3 separate regions of the Homo sapiens genome follow, and regions 1 and 2 are each linked to region 3. The links come from fine-mapping of genetic effects on plasma protein levels. Region 3 holds a variant in brackets. A gene starts in each other region. All regions are shown on their forward strands.

The links. PIP is the chance, under the fine-mapping model, that this variant and not a neighbour inherited with it causes the effect. The UK Biobank Pharma Proteomics Project read protein levels with antibody pairs (Olink). The fine-mapping took linkage between variants from a reference panel, not from the people measured, so its PIPs are less certain.
Region 1: it holds the start of RETN, and the variant in region 3 is fine-mapped to the plasma level of the RETN protein (UK Biobank, PIP above 0.99).
Region 2: CLEC4D starts here. The variant in region 3 is fine-mapped to the plasma level of the CLEC4D protein (UK Biobank, PIP above 0.99).

Annotation. Positions count from the first base shown.
Region 1 is chr19:7,666,555-7,671,782 of GRCh38, forward strand. It overlaps RETN (resistin), which reads left to right and starts at 2,495. Exons shown (of 4, transcript NM_020415.4): 1 at 2,495-2,567; 2 at 2,763-2,890; 3 at 3,267-3,344; 4 at 3,665-3,901. The coding sequence starts at 2,773. The coding sequence ends at 3,795.
Region 2 is chr12:8,509,285-8,514,499 of GRCh38, forward strand. CLEC4D (C-type lectin domain family 4 member D) reads left to right here and starts at 4,219. Exons shown (of 6, transcript NM_080387.5): 1 at 4,219-4,476. The coding sequence starts at 4,449. It also overlaps the pseudogene SUPT4H1P2.
Region 3 is chr7:92,776,412-92,781,639 of GRCh38, forward strand. All of the region lies in intron 2 of CDK6 (cyclin dependent kinase 6), which reads right to left. Among named protein-coding and RNA genes, the nearest start is that of CDK6-AS1, 57 kb to the right of the region's middle. The variant C/T (reference allele first, on the strand shown) is at 2,645.

The DNA of each region.
Region 1 (5,228 bases), not on the chromosome of region 3:
GGGCGGATCACAAGGTCAGGAGATCGAGACCATCCTGGCTAACATGGTGAAACCCCGTCTCTACTAAAAATACAAAAAAATTAGCTGGGCATGGTGGCGGGCGCCTATAGTCCCAGCTACTCGGGAGGCTGAGGCAGGAGAATGGAGTGAACCCGGGAGGCGGAGCTTGCAGTGAGCCGAGATCGTGCCACTGCACTCCAGCCAGGGCAACAGAGTGAGACTCCATCTCAAAAAAGAAAGAAAACCCACAAAAGACGTGAACTAACAAAAACAAACAAACAAACAAAAAAACAAAACAAAAGCTGGAAGCAACCCAAGTGTCCATCGATGGATGAAGGAATAAACACAACGTGGTTCATCCACACAAGGGAATGTGATACAGCCATGGAAAGGAAAACAGTTCTGACTCAGGCTACAGCAGGGATGAACCTTGGGGATATTATGCTCAGTGAAATAAGCAGATACAAAAGGACAAACACTGTGTGATTCCACTCCTAGGAGGTCCCTAGAGTCATCAGATCCATAGAGGCAGAAAGCAAGATGGAGGGTGCCAGGGGCTGGGGAGAGGGATAGGGAGTGAGTGTTTCATGGGGACAGAGTTTCAGTTTGGAAAGAGGAGAAAGTTCTGGAGATGGACGGCAGTGGTGGCTACATAACAACATGAATGTGCTTATTGCCACAGAATTGTGCTCTGAAAAATGGTTAAAATAGGCTGGGCATGGTGGCTCACACCTGTAATCCCGGCACTTTGGGAGGCTGAGGCGGGTGGATCACTTGAGGTCAGGAATTTGAGACCAGCCTGGCCAACATGGTGAAACCCCATCTCTACTAAAAATACAAAAAATTAGCCGGGCATGGTGGTGCACGCCTGTAATCCCAGCTACTCGGGAGGCTGAGGCAGGAGAATTGCTTGAACCCAGGAGGTGGAGGTTGCAGTGAGCCAAGATTGAGCCACTGTACTCCAGCCTGAGCAACTGAGTGAGACTCTGAAACAAAGAAACAAACAAAAGCAATGGTTAAAATGGAACAAGATGGTGCATACCTGTAGCTTCAGCTACTGGGGAGTCCAAGGTGGGAGGATTACTTGAAGCCAGGAGTCTGACACTAGCTTGGGCAACATAGCAAGACCCCGTCTCAAAAAAAAAAAAAAAAAGGCCGGGCACGGTGGTTCACGCCTGTAATCCCAGCACTTTGGGAGGCCAAGGCGGGCAGATCACAAGGTCAGGGGATCGAGACCATCCTGGCTAACACGGTGAAACTCCATCTCTACTAAAAAAAAAAAAATACAAAAAATTAGCTGGGCGTGGTGGCAGGCGCCTGTAGTCCCAGCTACTTGGGAGGCTGAAGCAGGAGAATGGCGTGAACCCAGGAGGCGGAGCTTGTAGTGAGCCGAGATCGCGCCACTGCACTCCAGCCTGGGCGACAGAGCAAGATTCCGTCTCAAAAAAGAAAAAAGTAAGTTATAATGGTAAGTTGTATGTTATATGTATTTTACCACAAAAAGGCCCGTTGTACTGGAAACAAAGAACAAATAAAAATGTAATAACCATTCCAAGCTCATGGGTGGTCCAAGAAGAAACATGAGCTGGACCTTGGCCCATGAGCAATGGCTTTCCAACTTCTGTTGCAGGTGATGCCATTGATGGAATAAACCATGATTTTTCTTTCTTCTTTTTGAGATGGAGTCTTGCTATGGTGCCCAAGCTAGTCATCCAGGATGGAGTGCAGGGGCACGATCTCAGTGCACTGCAACCTCCACATCCCGGGTTCAAGTGATTCTCCCACCTCAGCCTCCCAAGTAGCTGGGATTACAGGCACACGCCACCACGCCCAGTTAATTTTTGTATGTCTAATGGAGACAGGGTTTCATCATGTTGGCCAGGTTGGTCTCAAGCTCCTGACCTCAAGTGATCCGCCCGCCTTGGCCTCCCAAAGTGCTGGGATTACAGGCGTGAGCCACCGGCCATAAACCATGATTTTATTTACCAGTTCTATTGCTCATGGGCATTTGGGTATGAATGTGGTATGTCATTCTCACCCAGAGACATAATTATTATTACTATTTTAGAGAAGTGGTCTTGCTCTGTTGCCCAGACTGGAGTGCAGTGCTGTGATCATAAGTCACTGTAGCTTCGAACTCCCGGGCTCAAGCAATTCTCTCACGTCAGCCTCCTTAGTAGCTGGGACTACAAGTGCTTGTCCGCACCATGCCTAGCAAGAGGCATTAATTTTGTCATGTTTGCATCAGCCACCCTTGCATGCAAAACTCTGCTTGTCTACCTGTTCCTCAGACCACAGCCCCTGGCATTATCCCTGGGGCACCACCTCCTGACCAGTCTCTGGACATGAAGACGGAGGCCCTGTTGGAAGTGGGAAGGCTCCCTTCCTCCTCCAGCCCTTACTGTCTGCTCAGGGGCTTCCTCTTGGCCCCGGATGTGGGACCGGAGGGTTGGGGGCCCAGGGACTTATTAGCCAAGCCAGGAAGCCCCACCCCAAGAGGCCTCAAAGAAAGAGCTGCGGTGCAGGAATTCGTGTGCCGGATTTGGTTAGCTGAGCCCACCGAGAGGGTAAGTGACAGCTGCTCCTGCGCTTGCCATGGCACCAGCGGGGAGGCTGGGGTCAAGGCTGAGCCTCCATCCCTGTCCCCCACATGGGGGGACAGGGGTCCAGGTCCAGGGGCAGATCCTACTCCCTCCATGGGCCGGATCTTCCCCACAGGGCAGGGCTGATCCAGCTGTGGGTCTCTTGGTTCCCTCTTTCAGCGCCTGCAGGATGAAAGCTCTCTGTCTCCTCCTCCTCCCTGTCCTGGGGCTGTTGGTGTCTAGCAAGACCCTGTGCTCCATGGAAGAAGCCATCAATGAGAGGATCCAGGAGGTCGCCGGCTCCCTAAGTGAGGACCCCCCACTTGGGCAAGCTCCCCAAGGGTCTCAGAGACCTCACTGATCCCTGGCACAGACCTGACTCCAACCCAGCCCCAGCGCTCACCAAATCTCATCCTCAAATCCAACCAGATCATAAATTCAACCCCAACTCCACTCCCAACCCCTCCGACTGTCCCCACCTTATCCACGGCTCCAAACCCAATCCCCGCTCTCACTCCAAACCTTCCCTTACTCCAAAACACCCAACTCAAGACAGGGTCCTGGAGGCCAGTGAGCTCCTATGCCCACAGGGACCTAGCTCCAAACCAACAGGGCTAGGGGAGGATGGGGGAGGGACCGTTTGGTCTCACAGCTCCCCCTGTCTCCTTTCCTCCTGCCCCCCAGTATTTAGGGCAATAAGCAGCATTGGCCTGGAGTGCCAGAGCGTCACCTCCAGGGGGGACCTGGCTACTTGCCCCCGAGGTGAGTGCAGGAGACTGTTGTCCAGGCGCCCATTTCTGTTCCAAGTCCCCTGGGAATGCCCCCTCCCCGCCACGTTCCCCGTGTCCAGCCTCTACTCCCCTAGGATCTTGGTCCTGACTCCCAGCCTTCTCCGCCCACCATCTGGACACTGGTGTCCACCCTCACTCCCTGCCTCCAGTGCCCATTCAGTGGTTGGAGCCTCCAGCCGTCCCCGTCCCCACCCCCGCCCCCCCAACCCCCCTCCGCGCTCCCCACCCCCCTCCCGCTCCCACCCTCAGCCTCCCAGCTCAGAGTCCACGCTCCTGTGTTCCGGGCTGCAGGCTTCGCCGTCACCGGCTGCACTTGTGGCTCCGCCTGTGGCTCGTGGGATGTGCGCGCCGAGACCACATGTCACTGCCAGTGCGCGGGCATGGACTGGACCGGAGCGCGCTGCTGTCGTGTGCAGCCCTGAGGTCGCGCGCAGCGCGTGCACAGCGCGGGCGGAGGCGGCTCCAGGTCCGGAGGGGTTGCGGGGGAGCTGGAAATAAACCTGGAGATGATGATGATGATGATGATGATGATGATGGAGCGGATCTGAGCCCTGCGTGGTTTCTTTAGTAGGCCCGGAGGGACTGATCTAGCGTCTCCAAGAGAGTGGGGCGCGTAGCTGCTGGAGGGGGCGGGGACACCGCGACTTTCTACTGCCCCATCGCCCTTCCTCCTATGGGGTCTCCAACTGCTTCCTCCGAAAATAGGGCCTGAACTTCCTCTAGTGACGTCCCCACCCAAGGCTCATGGCTGCCTTCAAGAGGTGACGTCTCATCTTTGAGGCTACCTTGACGCTCACCCTGGGGTCTCCGACCTCCCCAGGAAGTGGCTGGGTCCTTTTCCCCCAGTCCTCATAATGAGGCTTCATCGAGGACCTGGGTCAGTCTGGGCAGTGGACGGGACCCTCCAGGGCCCCAAGACTCCAGGAGCCCCAGGTCAGGGTGGAACCCTGAATCATGTCTCAGCCCAGAGCTGGAACCTGTACCCCTCACTTCCTACCTGCAAGGAGGAATCCCCAAGGCACAGGCAAAGTTGGGTTACGGAGAGTCAGGGACGCCTACCTGACGTCACGCATCATCACAAGCTCACGTTTTCACACAGGCAAGTGCAGTTGTGAGTAGTTAGTTACAACCAGATACACGCAGGGTGCTTACCCCTTCCTGGATACTAGATTATGAAAACACAGAGCAGGGGACTTGTCTGCTCCTAGATCCCCCCCAGGGTTTCGTTTCTTCCCTTCCCTTCCCCTCCCCTCCCCTCCCCTCCCCTCCCCTCCCCTCCTCTCCCCTCTTCTCTTTTCTTTCTTTCTTTCTTTTTTTTTTTTTGAGACAGGGTCTCGCTCTGTTGCCCAGGCTGGAGTGCAGTGGTGCAATCTCGGCTCACCGCAACCTCTGCCTCCTGGGTTCAAGCGATTCTCCTGCCTCAGCCTCCCACGTAGCTGGGACTACAGGCGCTCGCCACCATACCTGGCTAATTTTTGTATTTTTAGTAGAGAAGGAGTTTCACCATGTTGGCTAGGTTGGTCTTGAGCTCCTGGCCTCAAGCGATTCACCCGCCTCAGCCTCCCAAAGTGCTGGGATTACATGCATGAGCCACCGCGCCTGGCCTATTTTTTAATTTTTATTTTCGAGACAAGGTCTTACTCTGGCGCCCAGGCTGGAGTGCAGTGGCACAATCTCGGCTCACTGCAACCTCTGCCTCCTGGGTTCAAGTGATATTCCTGCCTTAGCCTCTCAAGTAGCTGAGATTACAGGTGCCCACCACCATGCCCAGCTAATTTGTATTTTTAGTAGAGAGCGGGTTTCACCATGTTGGCCAGGCTAGTCTCAAACTCCTGACCTCAGGTGATCCACCCAC
Region 2 (5,215 bases), not on the chromosome of region 3:
TAGGCTCTTCACCCTCTTCCCAGCCTGAAGGCAGTAGGGGCGGGGGCTATGGAAGTGGCAAAAAAAAAAACGGTGTTCCTGTTGTGTTACCTCTGCGAGCTCCATCCCATAGAAATGCAGAGCTGCTACCAGCCCAAGTCCTCAGGCGGGGGTGGAGTGGCTGTGCTGGGGGCCCAGGCCAGTGGGCTTTGCCTGGCAAGGTTTAGCGGAGGCCTGCAGTCTGTCTGCTCCTCAGCACCATGAATTCGACTCCATGCAGCTCTCCATGTAAGTGCAGGCCTGGTGGAGGACAGGACTCGGGGGGTTGTCAGGGGCATCCCCTGTGCCCAGGATTGTACGGGTTCATGGCAGAAGTGTGGGTCCCTAGGGACTGTCACTCACTCATCATTTCCTCGTTGTGGGGAGCCTCCCTTGGCTCCATGCCAATCCCGGGTGGGCAGCTGTCCTGTCTCACTCTTCTTTGCTCTCTGTGGGTTATGTTACTTCTGTGATGAATCCCAAAGTGTCCTCCTTCAAATTATGTGAATTTGTTCTTGCAGTCCTGTCAAATTAACCACTTTACCTTTTACCTGTGATAAAGATTGTGTCTTTACTACAGAATCTCTCTCTCCTTTTTTTTTTTCTTTTTTTTGCCTTAACAAGCCTGATTTCTATTATCTAGGAAGATGTTAGGATTTAATTAACAGCTCTGTCACGTCTTCTTCAACTCAAAAATAAAGGTTAATGGAGGTTTTGCTTATTGTTCATATTGTCTTTTTGTAATCTTAACTGTCTTGGACACAGCTTTTCATTCAGCTCTGAGAAGTTTCTAGAGTAGGGTTTCCCTCATATTTTTGAAATTATAGTCACTTTCTGAGAACAACAGAATGTACCAGACCTATTCTATTTTTTTCCTGTTCTAAGCAGGATTTATGTATTCTCTAGGAGTCCCAGGTCCTTTTGATAGAAATAAATATTACTTTAACCAAAAATCTAGTTTCCAGGGTTGCATATCCGAGTTTGTGGGTTAGTGCTATTGTTGCTATTGGAATACTTCTTGTAGTGACTGGCGGTGCCGGAAAATATATGGATTGCCAAATCTATAATTTTACCTCCTCCCATCCCCAATTTAACATAGTAAAGTAATATTTCACTGAAGATCACAGAATATATATACACACATATCATTAAAGTAATATTGTAGCTTAGGGAAGAGTTCAGGGAAAGGGCTATATTCTGGAAATTGTAGAGATCTTTCTTAAAGGATCTCTAAGCTGTTATGTACTTGTCTTAGTGAGCTTGGGCCACTATAACAGAATACCATAGACCGGTGGTATGAAAGAGAGACATTTATTTCTCACCGTTCTAATAGCTGGAAGTCTCAGATCAGAGTGCCAGCATGGCAGAAGTGTGGGTCCCTAGGGACTGTCACTCATCATTTCCCCATTGTGGGGAGCCTCCCTTGGCTCCATGGCAATCCTGGATGGGCAGCTGCTCTGTGTCGCTCTTCTTTGCTCTCTGTAGGTTATGTGGCTTCTGTGATGAATCCCAAAGTGTCCTCCTTCAGGTCATGTAAATTTGTTCTTGGAGTCCTGTCAAATTAACCACTTTACCAGTGAGGGCTTTCTACTAGCCTTGCAGATGACTGCCTTCTGGAGAACTCATCTCTCTTTTTTTTTCCTCTCTCTCTCTTTTTTTAAATTTTTTTTTAAATTTTTTTATTATACTTTAAGTTCTAGGGTACATGTGCACAACGTGCAGGTTTGTTACATATGTATACATGTGACATGTTGGTGTGCTGCACCCATTAACTCCTCATTCTCCCAGTGCTATCTCTCCTCCCTCCCCCCACCCCACAACAGGCCCCGGTGTGTGATGTTCCCCTTCCTGTGTCCAAGTGTTCTCACTGTTCAATTCCCACCTATGAGTGAGAACATGTGGTGTTTGGTTTTCTGTCCTTGTGATAGTTTGCTGAGAATGATGGTTTCCAGCTTCATCCATGTCCCTACAAAGGACATGAACTCATCATTTTTTATGGCTGCATAATTTTCACATAGCTTCGTTTCTACAATCACAACATTCCTGAGGTAAACAGGCAAGGTGTAATCATTCTTTTTTTACAGAGGGAGAACAAGGAACTTAGGGAAATCAAAATGGGGACACTAACAGGATTTCTGTGGAAATTTAAGTAAATGAGAATTTGTAGTAAATTTTTTATCCTAAAACAAATAACTCACTTTGGCCGAAAAATGGGATGTTACCCAAGGTCCCCTACTGGGCCGGCGGAGAAAAGGACCTGCCTCCTACAGGGGCACAAACAAGGCAGACTAGGACCCAGCAGTCGGCCAAGGCCCAAGGGTCTCCAGTAAGGAAAATGTAAAATGTGAGTGTGTGAGACTGGCCTAAGATATAGGAAGAGCAGTAAAGAGAAGAAAACTGACGAGCAGAGGGGGAAAAGAATTATTAAACATGGTCAAGGAGCAAGGAGCACGACAAAGCCTCAGGATTTCTTCAAGGGATACTGCTGTGCCAGGTCTCAAGGGCAGAAGGATACAAGCACAAGACACCAGGGCCACCAAGCTGATGGGGTTACTGAGCCTCTGGACAGCACCTTCTGATAGGAAGCAAGGAAGCACACTACAAAGGCTGCAATCCTGGAGGCTGAGACAGTCAAGAGGGAGTGGAAGGGCCTCTGCTGCTCTGGGAAGGTATCTTATAGGGCAAATAAGCTCTTACTGTGTGCCTAAGAGAAAGGAAGAGGGAAGCGAGGCAGGTGTCATGGCCTTAAGAACTTTCTAGAGGTTTCTATTTATTGACATTTGACCTAGACCTCTTCATGAGCAAGGCGCAGCCTTGGGCTACAGGTAGGAAAGTCAGCATCCTACTCTCTCCTCAATTCCATCTGTTAATCCACCAACCCAAATCCCTCCCACCCCCACCTGAAGTCCAAATAAGGTAAAATGATAAAATGATGTGCTGTTCTCTCAACAGTTGGCTGAGTCTGAATTGGAGGGTAGGAAGCATTTGAAGCTCTGCCCATTTAGTTCCAGAACAAAAAATAAGCAGAGGCAGGAGGTGGAGAGCAAAGACGCTGGCAGCCCTGCGTCTGGTCTTTATAGCTGTGTCTTTGGATTTGTAGGCCACTCCTCAACTTTTCAGCTCCCGCACGATTCCTTAGGGCAAGCGACCAGTGGTTGACACCGCATATACACCTGGCTTAAAGTTATTGACTCGCTGCCAGTTGGAGACCCAGCTGTCCTCTGGACTCATCATCGCAATGATTCCATCAAAGGAGGAGCTGGTGCAGCCATATAGCATCTCTCAGTTACCCTTCATCTGTAGATATGCATCTCAATAGTCACAACCATCATATTCAAACTGGTCTATAGTACCTTGACCAGTGAACACAGCAAACAGGCCCACAGATGCCACAGGTCCTTCAGCACCGTCTCCAGGGCCATCTTCTCCAATGAGAAGAGCAACAGCAAGGAAGATGGCCACAGCCTGAGCACCCGCAGGAAGTAAACAGCTCGTTAGCCGGGTCTCTTCTTATAATTCCATCATGAGGACCCCATTCTCATGACCTCATATTAAACCTAATTACCTCCCAAACTTTTGACCTCCAAATGCCATTACGTTGGAGGGTAGTGCTTCCACCAATGAATTTTGAGGAGATACAGACATTCACTCCCTAACAGTGCTATAAATGAAGTCAGGGACCCTGATGGTGTCTTTATCACAGAATCTTACATTTTCTTTGTCTTTGCCTTAACACAACTCTTTTTGCTCACCTAGAAAGTTCTTGGGATTTAATTAACTGCTCTATCATCTCTTCCTCAACTCGAAAACAAAGGTTGCTGTGTCTTCACATGCCATGTACACACAAGGTATACTTTAAAAGTTTTTGTTCATTGTTCACATTGTCTTTTGCTCTCTTAGACTCAACTTTTTATTCAGTCCAGAGAACTTTTTAGTATAGAACTCACCCCAAGAATATAACTGCCTTTGAAAATATAATATTCACAAAAAGAATTTAAAAAGAGGGGACATTTACTAAATTTTTATTGGGCATAACAATTATTTCTTTTAGGGCGTTGCTAAATTTTTTGTCTAAATGAAAAAAAAAACAAATTGAGAAATTCCACATTTCACACTGATCTAGTGATCTCAACATACTTGTGGGTTTCTACTAACTGTTGTTTGGTATTGCTTTCTCAATTTCCTTTTTTTTTTTTTTTCGCCTCATCTCCCGGAATGTATCAAAGGAAACCCCTGTCTTTGAAAAAGACTTCTTTTGAGCTAACTTTCTTATACTGGTACCTTTCTAATCTCACTACAATATGTAACATTGGTGTTCGATCTCAAGTATTTCTGAATATATTCCCCTATCCACAGAAATATACTCTGGGGGAAAAAAAATAGAACAAATTCTTGCCGTCCTGACCATTGAACAAGAGACTAATTAGACAATGGGGCTAGAAAAACCTCAAAGTAAACGTGAGTACTTTCTCTCCTTTCCATTTCAAAGAAGCAGATGGAATTATACTAATTTAAAACATATGAATTGATGGTAGTTTTAAAGATTGTTGATGATGACGGGGAGAAGGAGGTGGAAGGAAATAAAAATGACGTTGGTGAAGAGGAAGGACATAGAGTCAAATAAGTTGGATAACAGAAACTTCTTTATAAAATGTATATTGGACCAAGAGGGGAGATAAAATATATAAAAGAGAAATAAGATGAAAAGAAAGAGAGTAATATGAGAAGATTCTTTTAAAGAAAAAAGAGAAAAGGAAGATGTAGAAAAAGCATTTAGGCTTATGCTGTATCAGAGGCTCTAACTGTCCCATTTTATGTTTGACTTAAGTGACACCAGTGGATTTGTATTGTGATAATATTAAATAATATTTTTGATAGATATATAGAACAAGTGTGGAAATGTTTAAATTAAAATTAAAGTTTTACTTTATCTCATCACCCTACCATGGCAAACTGTAATCACAGTGTGATCCTATTGAATTACCTTTTTAGGTAACAATATTTCTTAGAGATTTTTTGCATCAATATATACTGATTACATGCTTATTTAATTACTATACAGAATATCATTGTGTGAAGGGACCATAATTTAGAATTTCCACTATTGATAATATACATGTAAATATTAGATTACAGTATGTGTTTTCTATTTTGAGAAGTACTGCAATGAATATCTTTTAACATAAACAAGCTCAAT
Region 3 (5,228 bases):
TGGGTATATACTCAGTAATGGGATCACTGGATCAAATGGTATTTCTGGTTCTAGATCCTTAAGGAATTGCCACACTGTCTTCCACAATGGTTGAACTAATTTACACTCCCACCAACAGTGTAAAAGCATTCCTGTTTCTCCACATCCTCTCCAGCATCTGTTGTTTCCTGACTTTTTAATGATTGCCATTCTAACTGGTGTGAGATGGCATCTCATTGTGGTTTTGATTTGCATTTCTCTAATGAACAGTGATGATGAGCTTTTTTTTCATATGTTTGTTGGCCTCATAAATGTCTTCTTTTGAGAAAATGTCTGTTCATATCCTTTGTCCACTTTTTGATGGGGTTGTTTTTTTCTTGTAAATTTGTTTTAAGTTCCCTGTAGATTCTGGATATTAGCCCTTTGTCAGATGGATAGATTGCAAAAATTTTCTCCCATTCTGTAGGTTGCCCGTTCACTGATGATAGTTTCTTTTGCTGTGCAGAAGCTCTTTAATTTTATTCCATTTGTCAATTTTGGCTTTTGTTGCCGTTGCTTTTGGTGTTTTAGTCATGAAGTCTTTGCCCATGCTTGTGTCCTGAATGGTACTGCCTAAGTTTTTTTCTAGGGTTTTTATGGTTTTAGGTCTTATGTTTAAGTCTTTAATCCAGCTTGAATTACTTTTTGTATAAGGTATAAGGAAGGGGTCCAGTTTCAGTTTTCTGCATATGGCTAGCCAGTTTTCCCAACATCATTTATTAAATAGGGTATCATTTCCCCATTTCTTGTTTTTGTCAGGTTTGTCAAAGATCAGATGGTTGTAGATATGTGTCATTCTTTCTTGTTTTTTTTTCCTTTTTGTGAAGGAGTTTCGCTCTTGTTGCCCAGGCTGGAGTGCAATGGCACATCTTGGCTCACCACAACCTCCGCCTCCCAGGTTCAAGCGATTCTCCTGCCTCAGCCAAGTACTACTCCCAACCCGAGTGGCTGGGATTACAGGCATGGGCCACCACGCCCAGCTAATTTTATATTTTTAGTAGAGACGGGGTTACTCCATGTTGGTCAGACTGGTCTCAAACTCCTGACCTTAGGTGACCTGCCCACCTCGGCCTCCTGAAGTGTTGGGATTACAGGTGTGAGCCACCGTGCCCAGCCATGTGGCATTATTTCTGAGGCCTCTGTTCTGTTCCATTGGTCTATATATTTGTTTTGGTACCAGTACCATGCTGTTTTGGTTACTGTAGCCTTGTAGTATAGTTTAAAGTCAGGTAGCATGATGCCTCCAGCTTTGTTCTTTTTGCTTAGGATTGTCTTGGCTATACAGACTCTTTTTTGGTTCCATATGAAATTTAAAGTAGTTTTTTCTAATTCTGTGAAGAAAGTCAATGGTAGCTGGATGGGGATAGCATTGAATATATAAATTACTTTAGGCAGTATGGCGATTTTCACAATATTGATTCTTTGTGTCCATGAGCATGGAATGTTTTTCCATTTGTTTATGTCCTCTCTTATTTCCTTGAGCACTGGTTTGTGGTTCTCCTTAAAGAGGTCCTTCACATCCCTTTTGGGTTGTATTCCTAGGACCTCTGTTAAACTTTTAATGCCTTGCTGGTTCACCATGTCATCCTTCTGCATTTCTGGGCTTTATGGACCCCACATTTGGACTTCTCTGTGAATCTATACTAAATTTTAAAGGAAACGAAAAAAAAAAACCAAAACCAAAAACAAAAAACACTTAACAAAAAAACCCCACCACTGTAATTAGGTTAAATCTGGCAGGTCAAAAAACAGAACACCAACAACTACACATGCTTCATAGCCAGATCCAAGCTTCTTTTTAATTATGGGCAGTTTGGGGTGAATTATACAACTCCATTAAAATTAACCAGAATCCATTGAAAATTTTTTCCTCACATTTATCTACTTCTAAACATTCTGGTTTTTAAGTTTTAATATCCATTCCTAAACTTAATATTTTCCCCTAATGTTACTTATTCTGGAAAATTATTCCAATAAAGTAAAAACTCTTAACAGATTTATTAAAGATAGTACCATAAATCATATTAAGTCTCACACTCTAAAAATATGATTGCTATCATGCATGGATTTAATATGTGGAAAATTTATCAAAACAGTTCTTTTGCCTTGATAATTCAAGATAACTACAACTATTCACAGGCTTTTTTAAGCCAGCTTATTGCTATTAAATCCACATACTTGGACAACTTCACTCTTTTCTTCCTATTGAAAAAGAAAATGGAGTTCCACAATCCCCAACTTTCTTTATATCTGTTGCTTGTATTTTTGTAATAAAATAAAAGAGCAGTGAACCAAAAATGGCATGTCCCTAAAGTCAAATACAAACACAGAGCTGTTTCATACTATGACCATTTCAGTTGTGTTTCTGAAACATTACTTTAAAAATATTTCCCATTATAATTAATATATTTAGTGAAAAAATTACATTGCTTACCACTACCTGGAATCAATAGTAATTTTAGTAACTCCAGTTCTTACTGCATTTATAGTTTATCATATATATATATATATATATATAAGATATTATAGTAATTTCCAAAAGAGAAAAAATTCTGACGGGGGCATAACTGGAGAATAAAGTGATCCTAAAATACTGCTGAAACAAAAAGTCATCTGCCCCCTGGAC[C/T]GTTGTCTTAGAAGTTACCTAACAACCCTGGCAGTATGCCCTGTTGCTTCATCTCACTGAAACCGTTTTCAAGCACTCTTTGCATGACACAATTTAAAAATAACATCTAACCCACCCAAGTTGCTTTCCTCAGAGTTATACTGCTCTCTTCAAAATATTAAGACTCACTGATGCCACCTGCAGCAACTGGACTCCAGGCCTCAGTTTCAATGGATGCTCAAGATACGAAAGGTGAGCTCACTGAAGCCACTACTAATTGTCCTAAATGATAAACCTTGGAGAAAAAAGGACTCATTTCAATCGGTAGTTTTTAAAACATGGAATTTTAAAGAGATGTGTAATAGTCCATAGAGCAGAACATTTTCACATAAATTTTAATGTATATACTTGCATATTCTTAAAAAATGGTATTAGGTAGAAGTGACTCCTCCAGGTTCAAGGAAATAATCCTTTTTAATTTTTAAGGTGCCATTATTATTAACTTCATTCAGGAAATGGAGCATATTAGAGACTTCTCAGACATTCACAAAGGGCATCAAGGGACATCAGAGTCCTAAGGGTGCCTGTAGGATACTCTCTTTTTTGGCTCCAGTGCTGGCTAGCCATCCACATCCTACAGACCTAGTACTCCATGGAAGACATCTGGGGAAATATTGCTCTTCCCAAAACTATGAAATTTTGTCTGACTTAAATTATGTCTGATTAATGGTTAGTAAACATTGTACTAAAAATTAACAGTTATATTAGTCACAATGGGTAGGAAATGCATTTTGAATCAATGGTTGTAAACATTAATCTTAGAAATGCTAGACTATAATATTTATGATGCTTTTTTTTGTCTACAATGACTCCCTCTGGAATTGCCCCAAATCAAATAATAGTCACTTTGGTGGGCAATAAAGAGAAAACAGAAACTTTATTTTTATTCTTATTTTTCTTTTAAGATGGAGTCTCACTCTGTTGTCCAGGCTGGAGTGCAGTGGTGCAATCTTGGCTCACTGCAACCTCCTGGGTTCAAGTGATTCTCCTGCCTCAGCCTCCCGAGTAGCTGGGACTACAGGCATGCACCATCATGCCTGGCTAATTTTTGTATTTTTAGTAAGGATGGGTTTCACCATGTTGGCCAGGCTGGCCTCGAACTCCTGACCTCAAGTGATCCACCTGCCTTGGCCTCCCAAAGTGCTGGGATTACAGGCGTGAGCCACTGTGCCCGGCCAGAAACTTTAATATAACAAATGAGTTTCATATACAACAACTGAGCTAAGCATGAATTAAAATCCCTGGTATTTGGCTAGAGGTAAACAATCTGTAATGTATTTATATAAATCAATAAGGAATGGGGCTAGGCTACCTAGAACCCTTACACTTGCAAAACAAAAGAGCCAGACAGGTCTGAACACTTGAATGTAAAAACTGGAAAATAGGCTGGGCGCGGTGGCTCACACCTGTAATCCTAGCACTTTGGGAGCCCGAGGAGGGCGGCTCACGAGGTCAGGAGATCGAGACCAACCTGGCTAACACGGTGAAACCCCATCTCTATTAAAAATACAAAAAAATTAGCCGGGCGTGGTGGCAGGCGCCTGTAGTCCCAGCTACTTGGGAGGCTGAGGCAGGAGAATGGCGTGAACCTGAGAGGCAGAGCTTGCAGTGAGCCGAGACCGTGCCACTGCACTCCATCCAGCCTGGGCAATGAGCGAGACTCCATCTCAAAAAAAAAAAAAAAACAAAAAAACAAAAAACAACAACAACAACAAAAAAAACCAAAAAAACCCCAAAAAACTGGAAAATAGCTACAACTGCATGATTCCTTATATTGACCAATATTTTAAGACTTTCTAAAACCTTTTTTTAAAAATTTTTGCTAATCTGTAACCTGACAAAAATACCATTTCAAGAATTACATGACAGCAGTTCCATAAGAAAAATGTAATCACAATGTATTGAATATGAACAAAATATCTCAGATGACTTTTAAAGGAAAGGAAAATTACCATTAAATATTTATCCATTAGAGCTTAGCATAATGTGATCCAAGTGAATGTTCAAAAAGTCAAAGTGCAAACTGGTTATTGGCATTAACTAAGGCTATGCCTTCAGTTTAGCTGTGCAAAATGCAATCCAAAAAAGGCAGATAGGTCGTTATCATTTCACAATTAAGTTGGCCAAGCCCCTAACTCTCCCACAAAGTAAGTTCTCTTGCTGTCTCTATTGTCCTGACCCGCCAGCTGCAGGGCAGAGAACAAGGCTTGCAGTCCAGCACAGCACTCAGTTTTCCAGCTGTCCTAGTGATGTAATTATCTAATAACAAAATATCTCTCTGAATTAACTCTGCATCCTACCCATTGTAATTCTTAATGACTACTTCCTGTTCATGTTCTCAATTTAACTTGCTCTTCTGGAACTATTGCATAGGCAAGTTGCCTTCATCTAATGGATGGGATTACATCCAATAGGTTTGGGATTTCCAAAGATTACAATTTACAAAGGTCTCCCAAACAACATGCTTTGTAAACACAAGCCCTGCCTTTCTATTGTGGTTACAATAAAAGGGAAATCTGTCTTATTTGCTGTGATTAAACTTTGA